2 separate regions of the Homo sapiens genome follow, and region 2 is linked to region 1. Evidence: fine-mapped expression QTL. Tissue or cell type: adrenal gland. Region 1 holds a variant in brackets; the other region holds the start of a gene. All regions are shown on one strand. Distances are between the middles of the regions.

Region 1 (6,016 bases):
TTAAACTTCCTCTCTCTTCTTCGGTTGGATGATGTCTTGGGAACCTGCGAAAGGCTATGAGCCCTCCTCGTGTGGATAGTGACACCCGACACACCACTTCCCACACAGACCTGAGTTTTAAATTTGGATTGACGAAAGTTAAGTTTATCTTAGCTTAATATTGCCTTTTAGAAACTCTATATATTTTTCTGGGCATGGTAGTTCATGCCTGTACTTTGGGAGGCTGAGGCGGGAGGACTGCTTGAGGCCAGGAGTTTGAGACCAGTCTGGGGGCAACATAGCGAGACCCCATCTCTAAACAAACAGACAAACAAAAAAACTAAAAAAATTCATGCAAATATATATATATGTAGTGTTTCTTTCTTTTTGAGACAGGGTCTCGCTCTGTCACCGAGGCTGGAGTGCAGTGGCGTGATCTCGGCTCACTGCAGCCTCTGTCTCCTGGTGCCTTAGCCTCCTGAATAGCTGTGATTACAGGCATGTGCCACCAGGCCTGGCTAATTTTTTTTTTTTTTTTTTTTTTTTTTTTTTTTAGCAGAGATGGGGTTTTGCCATGTTTGCCAGGCTGGTCTCAAACTCCTGGCCTCAAGCGATCGGACCCCCTTGGCCTCGCAAAGTGCTGGGATTACAGGCATGAGCCACCGTATCCAGCCAACACTATACATTTTGTATGTAAATTAGACCTCAATAAAATCGATTTAAAAAGAAGAAAGCTGCTAACTTTAATGTCTTCTACATAACCAGTTTACCATGCTCCCTGACCTACTCCCATCTCTGTAAATTGTGCTATAAGAATGGATAAAATGATTACATCTAAATATGATTTATCTAGGCAGATAAACCCTAGCTCTTGTTAATTTACTTACTATAGCTTTATTTTTCCCATAAAAATCAGGTGTTTAAAAATTCTAAACATAATCCCTTTTCTCTTTATGATCTGGAAATTTTGAGAGTACTTTTCTTTTTCTTTTTTTGAGATAGAGTCACACTCAGTCATCCAGGCCAGAGTACAGTGGCGCAATCTTGGCTTACTGCAGCCTTGACCTCCGGGCTCAAGTGCTCCTCCCATCTCAGCCTCCTGAGTAGCTGGGACTACAGGCACAGGCCACCATACCCAGCTTATTTTTTATATTTTTATTTTTAGTAGAGATGAGGTCTTGCTATGTTGTCCAGGCTGCTCTCGAGTTCCTGGCCTCAAGCAGTCCTCCCACTTCGGCTTCCCAAAGTGCTGGTATTACAGGCATGAGCCACTGTGCCTGGCCAAGGATACTTCTCATTTGACTAAATACTCCCTTCCCTTCCACCGGAGGGTTTATACCATTTTCCTTATCTTTAGCAAAGTTGGTAAGACCAACGAGTATCATCATTTTGCAAATGAGTAAATGGACCTTAAAATACTAAAGGAACAAAAAGCAAAAAACACAATTCATTTAAAATAATAGAATAAGCCAGTGATAGAGGGGAAAAATCCAGTACAATAAGCAGATTAATTAAGTAAAAGATCTAGTATTTTCTCTTTCAATCTATTGTAATTAGTTTATTCTTGGCAGTATTGTGCAGTGATCTTTTAGCTGCCTCTGTATCTCCGTCTGGAATGAGGTTCGGGCCATGCTGCGCATGTTTATGTTCCAAGTTTATGTTTTATCTTTAAAACTCTGACTTTATTTGGCTACGTGCCTGTTACTGGGTATAGCCTATATTTTTAGTTTATTCCCAAATGCCCACAATATTAGAATTACCACTTCTTGTGTGTGCATCCACAGCATATCTTATCTGTTATTATGCTGAGAGTGGGGTAGATTAAAGCAAAGCAAAATTCTAGACTGAAAACAGTGTCAATTGAGTGCTTGAGCCATGTTTTTTCGTTCTCTTATGGTAGAGAAGTTTAGGATGAGCATTATTTCTCAGAAGAGTTATTTCTTTATCTAGGAGAAGAAATACCACTTGCAGGAGAGGGTTGACAAAGTAAAGAAGAAAGTGAAAGATGTGGAGGAAAAGTCAAAAGAATTTGTTCAGAAGGTGGAGGAAAAAAGCATTGACCTCATTCAGAAGTGGGAGGAGAAGTCCCGAGAATTCATTGGAAGTTTTCTGGAAATGTTTGGTCCGGAAGGAGCACTGGTATGTTCTTTCCCACTGGACAATGTAGGGAGTTCCATGTTGTGGAAAGAATGACAGAATCATTGAGCAGGAAGGGGCATCGACACTGAGAAGTTATCTAGTCTATCCCCTTATCTGGGCAGAACTATCTTTCAACTGTCCCCAGCAAGGTTTTTGAAA[C/T]CTTTACAGAAAGACGTTACACATTCTCCTAGATAATTTTGCCAGCTCTCTCTCAACCTTAAAGTCTGGTGACAAGATAAGCAAGTCGCCTTGCCCAGCTTTTATCTGTGGTATGATTTTAGATAGAAGGAAAGGAAAGAATAAAGAACAATAAAAAGAAAGCAGCCTCCACTACAAGTAGCTGCAGCAGGAACCCCAGGTAAGGTGGGAATTCTGTCTTTGAGGAGTAGCAGTCTTTTCAACCAAATAAAAGATTGAGCAAGTGAGTCCTAGGTTAGATATCAGGAAGGATCTGTCTGTGAAGGTGTTTGGATAAATTAGAATAATCCTAGACTAGATTATTGAGGAAGAATGGGGAATTTCCCGGGTGATGACAGCAGGGGAGAACCCTTAAATAAATAGTACAGCATAGACTATCCCAGTCCTAGATGCTTCAGTGATGATTAAGTAGGATCCACGGTGTTTTTCTGACTCTTCCTTTCGGTTTCTGCAGAAACATATGCTGAAAGAGGGGAAGGGCCGGATGCTGCAGGCCATCAGCCCGAAGCAGAGCCCCAGCAGCAGCCCTACTCGCGAGCGCTCCCCCTCCCCCTCTTTCCGATGGCCCTTCTCCGGCAAGACTTCCCCACCTTGCTCCCCAGCAAATCTCTCCAGGCACAAGGCTGCAGCCTATGATATCAGTGAGGATGAAGAAGACTAATGTTTCCTCCCTCCTTTCCTGTCCTCCCTTTCTGTCCCATTACCTTCAGAAGCTCTCTGTTGAATTCCAAATTGTGACCCCAACACTAAACCTAAGGACAGCTACAAAGGAAAGACAACTGGGGAAAGAAGACCTAGGACTGGGGGAACCCAAACAGCCTGTCCTGCAAGTGACATCACTCACCCACACGAAGGAGGGGGACTGCACCTTAGAAGCCTGCTCTGCATCCATTTACCCCCCCCCAAGGGCTTTGTTTCACTGTTTATGTTCACGTGATCTCAACAGGGAAATTGTCATTTTCATTAATTTTTTAAAAAATTCGTCTTTCAAATGTAGAACTAATTTTTTGCCCCTGAGGAGTGGGCAGAAGAAGGAGGTAGTGTAATACGCAGAGGCCTTTTCTTCCCGGTATACTATAGCATTTGCCTTCCGTTCTGAAGCTATGTGGCTTGCCAAGTCCTTCACGAAATGAGCCACGCTGATGGGTAATTTGTGGAGAAATATCTTAATTTTGATTTCCTTAAGGAAAAGCGAAAAGCAGAGTTACAGTCACAAATCCCCTGAACGTACTGCTGTCACCAGTGTCATTGTGGCTGCGGGAAGGAGATCTGAACCTAACTTTTCTTACTCCCTGAGGAGTTTCTTGTTGGACCCAATGGGGTCCATGAAGACACTGATGGGGATGGAAGCAGACCCATGGCATCAACTGCAGTGTTTCTGCTGTGTTCATCTTCTCAGAAAACTCTGTGACCCAGTTCTTTGGGAGCTTTTGTCAGTCTCTTTCGTGCCATCTACCTTCGAAGGAAGGAACACTTTTAGAGTTACAATGATGAGGAGAGGAGCGGGACAATACTCAATCCTATACCAAGTCGATTGAGATTAGTTTCCTACTGGGAGTAAGTGCCTGGCCCTGCTACTCCTATTTGAATGCTATTAATATTACCTAGCCTTTTACAAAGGATACTTTGTAAATGTCTGCTGTTGGAACTTGATGTTAATCCATTTTGGTCATAGCCATATTAGAGAGATTTGCACAGAATGTAAAGGCAAAAGCATAGGAAACACCTTCCTTTCTAAAGCAACAGCCTTATCACCTTGACCTCTGTCCCTCTTCAGAACATTCTTCCCTGGAACCAGTGCTCCACATCTTTCTTTTCCTCTGAGAGCTGCAGCTGGCAGGGACCTCCCTCTGCTGCTCCTCCAGCAAGCCACAGAGCATACCCTCACGTGACAAGAGTGTGGTAGGTTTTCTCCCCACTTTTCACACACGCCTGGTGGTTGTGGTTCCATCTGCCTTGTTGGCTTGCCCGGGGGGATTCAACACTTGACTTTCAAATCAAAGAATGCTAATGCTTAGCACTTGCTGTTGAGCATGCTCTAACTTTTAAAGCCCTGGCCTCCTGTCTCCTTAGCTGCTTAGCTACGCGGCCTAGCAGATCATCACCCATCAGTAATCCTGTGGCTAGATCCAGGGGAAAATTGCTTATGTCCAGGCCCCACCCCTGTCACTCATAAATACCCCTTGTGGGGGTGGAATTTTAGTGTTTTCAGCTAAGAAAACCACATTTTCTCTTTCCTTGCCTCTGCTAGGACTGTGAGCATCTCATAGTCCACTCCCTAAACACTTTCTGGTAACACCTAGTTTTCCGCCTGAGGGTCAGAGGCTAGAATCATTGCCTGCACAGCAGGACTACCTTGGTTCTTAAAACTTGGATCACCCAGGCAAGGCGTGGTGGCTCACGCCTGTCATCTCAGCACTTTGGGAGACTGAGGCTGGTGGATCACTTGAGGCCACGAGTTTGAGACCAGCCTGACCAACGTGGTGAAACCCCATCTCTACTAAAAATACAAAAATTAGCCAGGCGTGGTGGTGGGCACCTGTAATCCCAGCTACTTGGGAGGCTGAGGCAGGAGAATCCCTTGAACCCAGGAGGCGGAGGTTGCAGTGAGCAGAGATGGTGCCGCTGCAGTCCAGCCTGGGTGACAGAGCGAGACTCTGTCTCCAAAACAAAACAAAAACCACACACACATACAGAAATAAAGAGAAATAATCAACTAGAAAAAAAACAAAACTTGGATCACCCAGAAAGAGCGTCACAGAGGCGAGGGAGAATGAAGCCTCTTGTTATCCTGATCGCCTATGACAACGACATTTCTAACTCTTCTTTGAAGCGCAGTTCTTACTCTTAAATCTGGTCATACAAGCTTTGGCTTGGAATCCTGTCTGTCTTTGAAACAGCTGAAGTTAGTGTTTTCCTGTGTTACCCAGTGTTACATAGTCTCATCTTTGAACTTTTCTGCGTCAGCCTTCTCTCTTTGGGAATGCTGCCTGTTTCTGTCTAACTTATTCTCCCTGGTGTGGTGTGGCAGTGAAGTCTGTGCTGAAGCCCATCTGCTTGGTTCCTCCAAGTGCACATTATGCAAGTGTATTTGGATAGACAGGGAGATGCCCGGAACGTGGTTTTCCTCCTCCCTCCCTATTGGAGCCATACCTCCTAAATATATTGTCTGGGTCCCAAATGTTTGAGCCCTCTTCCTCTGCTCTCAGTGGGCTGCTCTTGGCATGCCCTGTGCTTGGAACGGGACCTGCAGGCTGACAGGCCTCTGAGACTGCTAGGGCCAGCAAACGTACATGTTATTGGGAAACTCCCTTTCCCCTTTTGGTGAGCTTCTACCACCTCAGTCTAATCGTTTTGACTGAAAGCTATTTGTCTGACTGAAAGCTAAAATCTTTTATAGTGTGGCCTGTTAGATACTTTGGGGTAAATGTGGTCTGAGGTGCTGGACTAGCACGGGTAGATGGAGAAAGCTGTTGGGAAGTTGCATAATGTGGTCATCTGTGCCTAATTAAATGAGGTTAGAGGTGTGCACACCACCACAATGCCTGGGATCTAAATCTTCAGATATTAACGTTTGAGGCTATGGAGCTGTTTCCCTGAATCACACACGAGAAAGCAGTCAACATGGGTGGGCCAAATGTGGCCAAGATGAGAGAGCCAGAAGTGTTGGCCTTAGAGCAGAGCCTCTGTGTGTGAGACA
Region 2 (5,448 bases), 27 kb after region 1:
AGCTACTCGGGAGGCTGAGGCACGAGAATCGCTTGAACCTGGGAGGCGGAGGTTGCAGGGAGCCGAGATCTTGTCACTGCACTCCAGACTGGGTGACAGACAGAAACAAAACAAAAGCCTCTGCCAGGGAGAGGCTTTCTCGTCGTGTTCTGATCCTGCGATGTATGTGTTACCGCGATTCCTAACTATCCCTGTGCGTTCTGTCACTCCTGCAGGGACGCTCACCTACCTCATGAATTACGCGTGTCGCCCTCCTCGAGACGCCACAACGCAGTCCCCTGGGGAGCCAGCCGGAGACCTCTCCCTGCGGTGCTGTCTCCCCCGTGGTGGAACGGAAGCCCCTAATAAAGCCTTGTCTGGGAAATTTGCTTGGCCTCGTGTCAATTTTTATCGGAGCCTAAAGAACCTGTGGTCAGTAACACGATCATTTCAGTTATCACTTAAGTTTTGGCTTCCTTAATATGAGAGTCAGTTTTGAAAAATCAAAAAAGAGGCTGGGCGCCGTGGCTCACACCTGTAATCCCAGCACTTTGTGAGGCCGAGGCAGGTGGCTCACTTGAGGTCAGGAATTCGAGACCAGCCTGACCAACATGGTGAAACCCCATCTCTTAAAAATACAAAAATTAGGCCGAGTGCAGTGGCTCACTCCTGTAATGCCCGTACTTTGGGAGGCTGAGGTGGGTGGATCACCTGAGGTCAGGAGTTCGAGACCAGGCTGGCCAACATGGTGAAACTCCGTCTCTACTAAAACTACAAAAAAAAAATTAGCTGGGCATGGTGGCAGGTGCCTATAATCCTAGCTACTTGGGAGGCTGAGGCAAGAGAATTGCTTGAACCCGGGAGGCAGAGATTGCAGTGAGCTGAGATGGTGCCATTGCACTCCAGCCCGGGCGACAGAGTGAGACTCAGTCTCAAAACAACAACAACAAACCTCATCTCTTCCAGTCCCCCTCCTCCCACACCCTGGCAACTGTGAATCTGCTTTTGATCTCTATGGATTTGGCTACTCTGGATATTTCATGTAAGTGGAACCATACAATATGTGGCTTTTTGTGCCTAGTTTCTTCCATTTTGCATAATCTTTTCTTTTCTTTTATTCTGTGTTTTTGAGACATAGTTTCACTCTTGTTTCCCAGGCTGGAGTGCAATGGTGAGATCTCGGCTCACTGCAACCTCCGCCTCCCAGGTTCAAGCGATTCTCGTGCCTCAGGCTCCCGAGTAGCTGGGATTACAGGTGCGCACCACCACACCTGGCTAATTTTTGTATTTTTAGTAGAGATGTTGCAGGAAACTGAGGACTGGCAAGACTGAGACAGAGAACGAGAGGACTGTTTATTTCAGGTACGCACTGGCTTAGTGGACTGTCATCTAAAAAGCTGAGCATCGAACAAAGACAGAGCGGGGTTTTTATAAGCAGACTTCCAATAAATAAAAGTAGTTAATCATATGACAGGTCACATCATCTATAGCATAACTTGTGGCCTTGCATAGCTGGTGACTTTGTAGCTGCATTGAAAGAAAAACAAGAACTGGCTAAATACAGACATTTGTAAAACATAATCATGCTTAAGAAACCTGGGAAAGGAGTAACAGTCAAAGAATTTGTCTTTCTTTTTTTTCTTCAACTTTGCTCTGGAGGCGAGGGGTGTCTGGAGCTTATTCTTTTGGCCTTGGCCTCTTAAACAGCGTTATCTTATAACTGTCCTTGAAGTGAGCTTGCTGGGCAGAGGAAAACTTGTTCTTTTCTTTTTAACTTTTGCCTTGCTTGTTACTTGTCTTGGAGTGAATGAATGCATATTTATTTTTAAATTTCTGCCTCAGTTTCTTCTTTTTGAGGCCTTTTATAAAGGAAGTTTAATATGGCTCATGCTTGTAATCCCAGCACTTTAGGAGGCTGAGGTGGGTGGATCACCTGTGGTCAGGAGTTCGAGACCAGCCTGGCCAACATGACTAAACCCCGTCTCTACTACAAAATACAAAATGAGCCGGGCATGGTGATGCATGCCTGTAATCCCAGCTACTTGGGAGGCTGAGGCAGGAGAACCGCTTGAACCCAGGAGGCAGAGGTTGCAGTGAGCCGAGATTGCGCCATTACACTCCAGCCTGGGCAACAAGAGCGAAACTATCTCAAAAACAAACAAACAAACAAAACAAACCAACAAAAAAACCCAGCAACTTTCTTTCTTTTTTTTTTTTTTTTTTTGAGATGGAGTTTACTCTGCCACCCAGGTTGGAGTGCAATGGCGCGATCTTGGCTCGCTGCAACGTCCACCTTCCAGGTTCAAGTGATTCTCCTGCCTCAGCCTTCTGAGTAGCTGGGACTACAGGCGTGCACCACCACTCCTGGCTAGTTTTGTATGTTTAGTGGAGATGGGGTTTCACCATGTTGGCCAGGCTGGTCTCGAACTCCTGACCTCGAGTGATCTGCCTGCCTCGGTCTCCCACAGTGCTGGGATTACAGGGATTACAGCGCCGGCTGAAAATTACCAACTTTCTTCCCATGTGTTTCTCCAGGTCATATTTTCTCCAACAACATCAGCCTCTCAGGGGCAGGAACTCCCGGTTCCCCAGCACATGTCGGGGTGGGGGTGGGGTTTGCTGTTGGAAGTGCCTGTCACCGGAGGCAGCTAGAGCAGGGCTGCAGACAGTTCTGCTGAGGTCCCCCAGCCTCTGTGATGTCACACTGGGCCTTCTTTCCTTTCACCCTGGGCTGCGGCTCTGAGGCTGCCGTGGCCATGGAGCTCTGGAAGCTGGGCTGGGGGAGGAAGCCTGGTGGCTCTGACCTCCCCTGGAGGCGAAGGAGGCCCAGCCATGACACTCTTAACGGATGCCACGCCGCTGGTGAAGGAGCCCCATCCCCTGCCTCTGGTCCCACGTCCCTGGTTCCTCCCTAGCCTCTTTGCTGCCTTCAATGTGGTGCTGCTGGTCTTTTTCAGTGGCCTCTTCTTCGCATTCCCGTGAGTTTTCCAGGCAAGCCGTTAGGTTTCCCACAAAGAGACAGCCAGGGAAACAGAAGATGATAGGATGGAGGCAGGGGAGTGCAGAAGACCGGGGGAGAGGTCAGGGAAAAGGGGATATTCTGTTCGAGGGAACCGACGTGCAAAGGTGCAGAGGTCAAGGGTGCGGGCAGGGAAAAGGGGATATTCTGTTCCAGGAACCGACGTGCAAAGGCGCAGAGGTCAAGGGTGCCTGTGCATTTTGGGAGCTTTGGGTGGCTGGTCATGCTGGTGACATTTGGTGGAGCCATTATGAGTCTGCCTGGGTATTTGGAGCCTGGATTTTTAGATCTGGCTTGAAGGTCTGTGGGTCCTGACCTGAGCAAGCCACAGGCCTTGGGCCGGGGGCTTTGGGCTGCCCCTGCTCAGGACCGAGCCTGCCTCTGGTCTCAGTTGCAGGTGGCTGGCTCAGAACGGGGAGTGGGCCTTTCCTGTTATCACAGGCTCCCTCTTTGTCCTTACCTTCTTCAGTCTTGTTTCACTCAACTTCTCAGACCCTGGCATCTTACATCAAGGTGAGGCATCAGCCCCCTGGGAAAAGGAGGTGTCACTCAAGGGCTGGGAACCTGCAGGGGGGATTCCTAAAGTGCTCTTCCTACTGACCCTCCTCCAGCCTCTGGACCCCTTCACCCCACGTCTTCATTGCTCTGGCCCTCGCTCACTCTTTCTTCTCTTCTCTTTTCTTTCTTTCTTTCTCTTTCTTTCTTTCCTTCCTTCCTCTCTCTCTCCCTCTTTCTTTCCTTCCTTCCTCTCTCTTTCCTTCCTTCCTTCTTTCTTTCTTTCTCTTTTCTTTCTTTCTTTCTTTCCTTCTTTCCTTTCTTCCTCTCTCTTTCCTTCCTTCCTTCTTTCTTTCTTTCTTTCTCTTTTCTTTCTTTCTTTTTCTTTCTTTCTTTCCTTCTTTCCTTTCTTCTTTCTTTCTCTCTTTCCTTTTCTTTTTGTTGAGACAGAGTCTCGCTTTGCTGCCCAGGCGGGAGTGCAGTGGCGCAATCTCCGCTCACTGCAAGCTCCACCTCCCAGGTTCAAGCGATTCGTCTGCCTCAGCCTCCCAAGTAGCTGGGGCTACAGGAGCATGCTACCACGCCCAGCTAATTTTTTGTATTTTTAGTAGAGATGGGGTTTCACCATATTGGCCAGGCTGGTCTCGAACTCCTGACCTCATGATCAGCCCACCTCGGCCTCCCAAAGTGCTGGGATTACAGGCGTGAGCCCCCGCGCCCGGCCCTACCCCGTTTCTTAAGCCACCAAGGTGTGGAAAAACAGAATTGTTGAGGTTTCCCAGTTGCCTTAGATGGGAGGACCGGGCAGGCCAGGGCCAGAAGCCAGTGGGCTCTTCCAAACCACTGTATGCACTTCCTCCCTTCACTACACAATGACACTCAAAGCAGCACTCACTGTTCCAAACGCCTGAGTTTCATACAAAACTCTCCTGGCTGGAAACCCGTCTTCCCTTTGACTGCCATCCTCTCTGAGCTTGGACAGCTTGCTCAGTGGGGACAGGGGTTCCCCTGCCCACCTTGTCCCCACCCTTCCTTGTGCCCTGTGATGCCGTGGAGCTGCCCCCGCCGCGGGGTGACCGCAGGGCCTTCTGCTGTGCCCAATCCTCTTCCCACGCCAGGCTCCGCTGAGCAGGGCCCCTTGACGGTGCACGTGGTGTGGGTGAACCACGGGGCCTTCCGCCTGCAATGGTGTCCAAAGTGCTGCTTCCACCGCCCGCCCCGGACTTACCACTGCCCCTGGTGCAACATCTGTGTGGAGGTGAGTGCCCCTCTACCTGTCCACCAGCCATCGCCCCACATCTGGCTGGGACCAGGAGCCTCCCTCATACAGGGGCCAGGGCTGGGTGTGAAGCTGTTTTCAGGACTGCTAAAGGCCAAGGGTGGCAGTAACTCCCAGCCACCCTTGGTCACTCATGTGTTCTCCACCTGCACCTGTCCTGGGAGGCTGGCCGTTGCCTGCAGAGGTGCTGACATGCACAGGGCATCCGCATCTGTCCTGGGCTGGGTCAGGCCAGGGGAGGAGAGGCAGCCCTCTGTCCCACCCCTGGGCTCGCTAACACGAGATACCCAAGCCCCTCAGGCTGGCTGCCCGCCTGGTCTGGGAGGCCTTGCCTGTCCTCGCCTGGGTGTCCAAGTTGGAGGGTCTCCTGGCTCTGAGTGACCATCTCTCTCGAGAGCACGGCTTGCATAGGTTTACAAGTGCAGGAGGCTGGCTGGGCAAGGGTGTTACTGTTACTGTCATCTTCATCGAATGGATGAGAAAGTGGAGGTCCAGAGATGGTTTACGTTCTGCCCAGAGTTACAGTAGGATGTGTCTCACAGAAGGCCAGGCCAGTCTTCTCTCTAAAGGTCTTCTGACAGGTGACCGTATATACCAGAGTCCTAACTGTGCTCTAACAAGGGAAATGCCAGCATGAGGCATTCTGTGGCTCAGTTTCTCCCTGGGGGTGGAAGCC

Evidence for each region. PIP is the estimated chance that this variant, and not a neighbour inherited with it, causes the effect.
Region 2: ZDHHC19 starts here. The variant in region 1 is fine-mapped to the expression of ZDHHC19 in adrenal gland (GTEx, PIP above 0.99).

The regions. Positions count from the first base shown.
Region 1 is chr3:196,235,649-196,241,664 of GRCh38, reverse strand. PCYT1A (phosphate cytidylyltransferase 1A, choline) reads left to right here. Exons shown (of 9, transcript NM_001312673.2): 8 at 1,930-2,118; 9 at 2,771-6,016. The coding sequence ends at 2,977. Among named protein-coding and RNA genes, the nearest start is that of SLC51A, 22 kb to the right of the region's middle. The variant C/T (reference allele first, on the strand shown) is at 2,278.
Region 2 is chr3:196,208,679-196,214,126 of GRCh38, reverse strand. It overlaps ZDHHC19 (zDHHC palmitoyltransferase 19), which reads left to right and starts at 2,727. Exons shown (of 8, transcript NM_001039617.2): 1 at 2,727-2,957; 2 at 3,390-3,511; 3 at 4,612-4,751. The coding sequence starts at 2,812. LOC124909479 (a long non-coding RNA gene) reads right to left here and starts at 2,712. Exons shown (of 4, transcript XR_007096240.1): 1 at 2,488-2,712; 2 at 1,350-1,506; 3 at 230-406. LOC105374304 (a long non-coding RNA gene) reads left to right here. Exons shown (of 4, transcript XR_001740544.2): 4 at 216-364.